Linked DNA regions of Homo sapiens. The protein of the gene in region 1 purifies or fractionates together with the protein of each later gene. This does not show direct contact. Each region holds a gene or a part of one and is shown on either strand. Other genes may lie near its edges.

The links.
Region 2: the proteins of APEH (region 1) and MPRIP purify together in Homo sapiens (affinity purification with mass spectrometry; one large-scale study listed by BioGRID and IntAct). This does not show direct contact.

The regions. Positions count from the first base shown.
Region 1 is NC_000003.12:49,677,238-49,680,889, reverse strand, and holds part of APEH (acylamino-acid-releasing enzyme), read right to left. Parts: intron 3,318-3,652; coding exon 3,257-3,317; intron 2,039-3,256; coding exon 1,941-2,038; intron 1,298-1,940; coding exon 1,246-1,297; intron 350-1,245; coding exon 261-349; intron 1-260. UniProt on the Homo sapiens protein: This enzyme catalyzes the hydrolysis of the N-terminal peptide bond of an N-acetylated peptide to generate an N-acetylated amino acid and a peptide with a free N-terminus. It preferentially cleaves off Ac-Ala, Ac-Met and Ac-Ser.
Region 2 is NC_000017.11:17,167,957-17,171,608, reverse strand, and holds part of MPRIP (myosin phosphatase Rho-interacting protein), read right to left. Parts: intron 1-3,652. UniProt on the Homo sapiens protein: Targets myosin phosphatase to the actin cytoskeleton. Required for the regulation of the actin cytoskeleton by RhoA and ROCK1.

The DNA.
Region 1 (3,652 bases):
AGGCTCTGCTGTCTCCTTTGCTCTGTAATACCAAGACAGAGCACTTCCCCAGGCACCTTGTTTTGTACGGAGCAGATTCTAGCCTAGTAGTTCGTCCCTGTGAGTGCCAAACCCTCATGGACCATGCCAAGCTGGGCCTGTGTCTTGGCCCGTCTGTATGCTGACCAGCCAGGTCAGACTCTGGGGCCAATTCCCTGACCTGGTGAGCTCTGCCTGCCCAGAACCCCTGCCTCCACAGCCTGGGACCCACCGACACTCACCAGGGTTGGAGGTAGGCTGGGTGTGGAAAACTGTGCCACCATGAGGTCCTGGTCAATTGTGAGCAACTTCCAGCTCCCACCTGACCCTCCTGGAAAAGGCAGATGCCATTAAGTGCTTAGCAGGAGCCATCACCTTTCTTACCTGCTTCTCTGTAACAGAGTCCCAGGCTGGAGACTCTATGGAAAGGTGCCCTTTTCTCCCCGAGAAGTGCCTTTCACAAACACCCAACTGCACATGGCCCCGGGTGAGCCTCCTGCTCTCAGTCTGTTGTTCATCTGACAGACACTGGCTGGGCTGGGAACTGCCAAACCTTAAGACACATCAGACCATGCAGGCACATCTGCCTGTCCCTCGATGGCTGCTGTGTGCAGGGTGGCAGCTGGGACCGGGAAGTTGGGGGTCGGGGAGCGTGCTGATTTGGGGCAGTGGTGTCCAAGCAGTTGTACAATGAGATGTAGCTTTGGAATGATACTTTGGTAGCTTTGTGGAGGAGCGGATACAGTCAGGTCAGGTGGAGGACTCAAAACACATTTCAAAGGCAGAATCACCAGGCCTAAGTATGGGGAAGACGGGGGAGTCAACACTGGGCTTTTCCTGGGCCCTCAGGTGGCAGAGCTGCCTCTGCCTGAGACAGGCACCCAAGGTTTGCAGAGCGAGAAGGATGAGTCTGGCAGATCTTGATAAGAGAGAGTTTTGTGGGTTTTAGGAGCAGAGGTGGGGGCCGTGCTGAGGCTGGGCCAGGACACATGGAACAGAGTTGAGTGCTAAAGGGCAGTAGAGCAGGGAAGCTAGTCTGTTGGTTGGGTAAGGGTCTGCACAGACAGGGGCCTTGGGGACCTGTTAGTAAAGGCTGTGGAACAGTCAGTGGTGCTGAGTGGCTGAGAATGCCATCACTGCCCCACATGTTGGAGCTCCAGTCCCCCGCTGCCTGGTTGGCTTGCTCACCAGCCCTGCCCTTACCCCCATCCCCAAAGCCTTGCTCACCAGCTGTGAGGGAGGTCACAGTGCCCACTTGGGTGTCCACAGCAAACAGGTCCTGAAGCAGAGGCAAGGCCACAGGTGCGACCACATCCAAGAGTACTCCCTCTACCTATGGGTCCCTCCCCTACCTCCTCTCTACCCTCTTGGAGAGCCCTGGCCAGACCAAGGCTGTGGACAGCTATGGTGATGGTTACTCAGTGCAGTAGGGAGTAGTGTGAGGGCCTGGGTTCAAATCCCAGCACCATCACAACTTGCTGGGTGACCCTGGGCAAGGTAAGGAATGGCTTTGAGCCCCTTTGAGTTGGCACAAGGACCAAATATCACACCCAAAAGGAGCCTGGCACACTGTGAGTGGCTTTACTCCATCCCTGGGGGAAGGCCTCAGTCCTGTCCCCATCAGCTGCCATTACAGAGTGTTCAGGGACCCACCCGAGTGGCAGTCCCCTTGACCCCCAGCTAGAAATGCCTGGGAGGGGTTGCATCTCTGCCTCAGACGAAAAGGCCTGAGTTCTGCTGTGGTGCACCAGGGCAGCCAGTCCCCTCCAGGAGAAATGAGTCCAGGATGGGCAGGCAGGGTTTTAAGGGGCTGATGAGACTTTGTGGCTGGGCATTCCACCCAGGGGCATGCACATGCAACCCCCAGGGCTCCTGGGGGTTGACCACAGGGGCTGCCCCTCAACACAATCAGCGTCCCTCACCTGCCGGCTGCGCTGAGCCGAGTCAAAGACCACTCTCTGGCTGTCAGCTGACCAGCATCCCAAAGGCAGAAGGCTGCAGTAGATCCCAGAGAAGTTCTCTGTAAAGATAGGAGGGCTGAGGCTGCATCCAGGAGTGGAGGTAGGGAGGGTAGTCTACAAGGAAGGCTAGGGTACTGGGGAATTCACCCAGGGCCCTACTCAGGCACCAGTCAGGCCCCTGCAGCTTGTAGCACACATGGGGGCACGCTACGCGATGAGGAGCTGCCTGAGTAGGTGGCTGAGGGGCAGAGGCCTCTTGGGACCCAGAGAGGACCCAGAGAGGCAGAGCTCAAGAGCTCCAGAGAGAAACCATGGGTGCTCAGAGGAAAAGCACTTGCTCTCCTGAGTAATTCCAGTTGAACCCAGGTAGGTACCAGGTGCTTTAACCAAGATATCATCTGTCCGTCTTATCTCCACTGTGGTGCTTAGCACAGCGCTTGGCACAGGGGGCTCAGTAAATCCTACCCTTTAATATCATCACTCACTTAACACTCACTATGATCCTATGAGGCAGGCAGACACAATCACCCCTCCATGAAGAAATGGGAGCTCAGGGAGGCCAGGACCCTGTCTGAGGACACAGCTAATTTAGGGCAGAGCTGGGATTCATACTAGGTTCCCACCACTGCATCCCTGCAACCCAAAGAGAAGACAAAGAGGCTATCCCTTGTCCACTGAACTCCTGGAACTGACCGGGTGGCCTGAGAAAACAAGAGACTCATCCTTGAGATGGTCCAGGAGGATCCAAGCAGAGCTATCAACACTCGAGACGGGAGCCTCTCAGCCAAGAGCCACCCTCCTGAAGACCCAGCTGACTTCAGGGCTTAGACTGGACAAAGGTTGCTGGGGTTAGGATGGTGGATGGGATAATATCATGCCCTCGGGTCCAGAGCCTCTCGAGTGTGACATTCCAACCTAGTGCACTTCCTGAGACCCACTTGAAGGAGTCATGGTTTTGGTTTGAACCAGCCATTGGAAAAATAAGAAAACTCTAATTATGACCTGCAGCACAGGAAATAATACATCATCAACTTGGGCCACTCTGATCTCAGCTTGGTCCTACCACTCCTTGCTATTGAACTGTTCCCTACGGTGACAGCCCCGCTCCCTATGGTGACAGCCCCGCTCCCTGAGGATGCTGGGCATAAGGCTGGCCCAGCAGGGAGGTAGGGCCCTCAGAAGGAACCTAGGAAAGAAGAACGGGGCAGGGATGCAACAGACGGCAGGAAAGCAGAGCTACAGGCCCCACTGCACCCACCCAGCCAGGTATGCCTTACCTCCCAGCTGCCGAGGCACAACATCTACCACCACTGAGGTAACCTTGGTATACCAGTCATACTGCAAGAGAACACAATGGTCAGGTCCAGTAGGGGACAGGCAGTTCCCTTAGGGCACAGTGCCCTGTGCCTATCCCCTTTTGCCTCAGGTAGCCCCAGGAGATGGGGGAACTGGAATAAGCCTGATGTATCTCTTTTCTGGTGACCTGGACCAGATGCCCAAGGGGCCTCAGATAGGCATGTCCCTCTGACTTTTACCAGGGGCCCAGAGCTCTTCCTGGGGAGGGTCTGGGATTGTGTAACTCCCCACTATATCCCAGCCCCTTGCAGAGCCTGGCTACATGCAGTTGAGAGCCAAGGGGAGGAGCATTCTTGCAGACGAGCATTCTCTCAAGG
Region 2 (3,652 bases), on another chromosome or scaffold:
GGGCATTCACTGAGCTTGCTCCACCATGGGCGCCCTGAACAGGATCCCTGGGGCTGTCTGGGGATTCTCAGCAATGCCATCAGAGCATTCAGAAAAGGGTGTTACCAGTCAACTCTACCTCTTATTTCTGTGACTGTACTGTGCCCCATTTCTTCCTGGGAGAAGTTGGTATGGTAGGTGGGGACAGGCTGCTATGAAATGGAAACCAGCCAACCCTGGACCTTCCTGCGTTGCTGCCAGGTGGGACCCACAGGAAGGAAGAGAGAGCACGTGGGCAGAGGCTGGCTGTGTCTGGTCTGGAGGGACACGGTGAAAGGCCCGTAAAACAGGGATGAGGGACTTGTCTGCTGGAGGGAACCAAGGCCATTCCACATATAGGGAGTGGCCTGGCGGGCACCGGGCTGGGAGCCTCTCAACCCACAGTGGGTTGGGGGTACATAGAGTCCACTTCTGGGAGCTGGGGGTTGGGACTCTGCCACTAGCCAGCTGACAACCTCCAGCTGGTCACTTAATGCTCAGGTGTTGACTGAGGGAGTAAGATCAGGCTACAGGCTCCCCTTCCTTCTAGCCTGTGTCTTCTTTCTTACTCTTTTCTTAAAGAAGGGCACCAATGACTTAGCACCTCTGCTAACTCTAACAAGTACATGACAGGAGACCTGCTTTCCAAACTCTCCTGTGCCTCCCTAGAGCGACATAGGCATGCCCCAGGATGGGAGCAAGCCACACCAGGAAGCCCAGGCCTGGTTATCAGAGCTGTGCTCACTAACAAAGCAGGTGAGCGTGCTGCACAGCTGCCGGGAAGGGTGGGTGTGCAGCTATTTTGAGCACGGAGGCACACACTTTCTGTCTAAATCCTTCAAGTGGTCTGCTTCAGAGAAGGGACTGGGCCTCTCGCTGAGTTTTAAAAACTGGAAGAACGTGGCCACATTCCATTCCAAATTCAAGTGTGGGGGTTTCCCCACTCTGGGCTGATAGCCTGCACCACTTGGTTAATCTTCTTGCATGTGGATTCAAGAAAGGATACCAAGAAATCCTATCAGCATGCCTGGGCATTTTTCTCTGGGCCCACTTTTGGTGATGGCCAACTCTGAGAGCCTCAGGCAGTATTTCCAAACTCGTGGTCAGTCTGGACTTGACTGCAACCTATGTGCTGCTCTGGGTGAATGTCTCAGCTATTGCCACTATTAACTAGGCGTCCCATCCCCTCTCCCAGCGGCTCCACCTGGAAGCATCTGTCTCTTTCTGCCACCCTCACACCTCAGGACGGCTGCAGGAGCTCGGAGCTCTGGAGCTCCTGGTCCTCAGGCCCCAAGGTTGAGCTCTTCTTTCTTCCTCCCACTCGCTTCTGTTTGTATGTGGCTTCTCAGTTAACACATTTAACTAATAGGTCTTTTTTAATTAAAAAAAAAAAAAATATATATATATATGGAATACTTCATGAATTTGTGTGTCATCCTTGTAAAGGGGCCATACTAATCTTCTCTGTATCATTCCAATTTTAGTATATATGCTGCTAAAACGAGCACAACTAGTATTAATAGATCTTTTAAGTCTTTTTTTTTTTTCTTTGAGTCTACTTGCTGGGAAAAGTCTTATTTTGATCTGAGTGCTTTGGAATATTATGCAGGTAAGAGTCAAAAATCTAACAGAAGCACTGGGACATCTTTAAAGACCTAGTTGCTTCTTTGGAGAGAAACTATATGCTAAAAAATAATTGATCTTGCAAACAAATGTTAATTTAAGCCAATCATTCCTGACACCAAAAGAAGTTCCCCGATGACTGCAATCGTGGTGTGGTGGGAGCCTGTGGATGTCAGAGGACGGCTGTTAGGCCAAGACCCTGTCCCCAACGACCCAAGTGGAAATCTGCATAAAGTGATGAAATCTCAAGGTGCTGTCTATTTACAAGTTCTGTAAGTCTGCAGGGGTGGGTGAGAACACCACACCTGGGCTAGAAGCTCCCAGGCACAGGAGGGGACACTATGCAACGGCAGCTAAGGCAGCAGGGAGTGGACAGTGTCCAAGCCCCTGGGAGGGGCCTCATCCCGACCTGCATCATCTGTTTCTCCCTCCTAGTGACACTGGCCCAGCACAATCTCTGGTCAGTTCTCAACATAAGGCAGTCCTCTTTTTTCTGATTTCTTGCTCACTGTTGGTATAATGGCACCTGCATGGGGCCTCCCCTGCACCTGGTTGGCTAACCTAAAGCAGCCTCGGTGTGGAGGGGCCTCTTATGGATGCAGACAGGAAGCAGGGCATTGCTGTGCCCAGGCCCTGCCCCCATGGACCCTGCTGATTGTCTGGGAAGCTGCAGGGAAGGGCACTAGCAAGCGTATTTGGGGTCAAAGCAAAGGTTTGTGCAATTAACTTTTCAAGGTGCACCTGGATCCACCCATCTCAGTGCTGCTCTTGGTGAACTGACCACAGTGCCATCATATACACACACTTTGAAAACATAGCTGTTGAAACCTTCTCACAACTCATAATGGTTTTTAAAAGGTTTTGACTGATTTGGGGAAAGAATGGTGAAAAAGAGCTTCTCAGTTCTCCTGAGGTGCTCGCTGACAACCACACCTGTGTGTCTGGGTGGGGCCGAGTCCGTCACACAGAGGTGACATGTGAGCTGCTGTTTCCATTCAGAGCTACAGGAGTAACGGGCTGGGAAAAACAGGTGTCCTGCTAGACAGTGGCTGTGAGGATGTGTAGGCAGGAGCAGTGGCAGCCACCTGGGAGTCAGGAGCTTGCAGCACAATGGTGCTGGCTGTGTGCGCGCCTGGCTCTGCCACATGAGCGTGGAAGGCACCACCTGAACATGGCTTTTGAGGGGCCTAGTCATCCTAGTCATTTACTGGGGCAGCTTCCTGAGTGGAAGGAACATAAGGGCACAGGTATCATGGTAAACTTTTGAGTCTAAGGGATGATGCTTGACAGCCACACATGGTGGGTGTGGCCTGCAGCTACAAAGGGTGGGGCCAGACAGCTGGGCCTCCACTCAGCCCACCACCACCTCCAGGGCCTGGCATTTCGCCTTTGTGCTCCAGGACCTCAGGGGCGGGGATGCAGGACAGTTCTGGGGAAAATCTACTTGTAAAGGTCCTGGGGAAGGGGACAGGAGTGGCTGGAGGCTGTGCTCCGTGGGAAAGTTCTTCTCACCAGAGCACACATCAAATGCCAGTTCCAGAGAGGGACCCTCCGCCCGACTGTGCTCTCCTAGGGCAATCAGGAGGAGACTGCCCTCCAACTGGGCCCTGGCTCTCCGGGGTGTTGCTGTGAGTACAAGGCTGTCCTCAGGCAGCTGCCTCAGATTTGGGCTGGGACTGGGCCAGACGGGGTTCCCGGGGCAGGGGCAGGAAGGAGGCAAGGCTGGCAAGGGGATTGGGGGCTGCTCTCAGGAACACGGAGAGGCCGCATTAGGCAGGCAGGGAAGTGCTGGGAAGACTACGTGCTCCTCTCCCACCAGGGACCCTGGCGGCCCTCCTGCTAGTTCTCCTCCTGGTGGAGGACACTGGGGGATGCCGAACAAGAGGCTAAGCCTGCGGCCCAGGCCCTGCTGAGACCACACCATGGCTAGCAAGTAGAGGGACAGCAGCATATCCCCTCAATTCTGCCTGCACGGTAGCTGAGCCAGACGTCCCCACACCCACCCCATTAT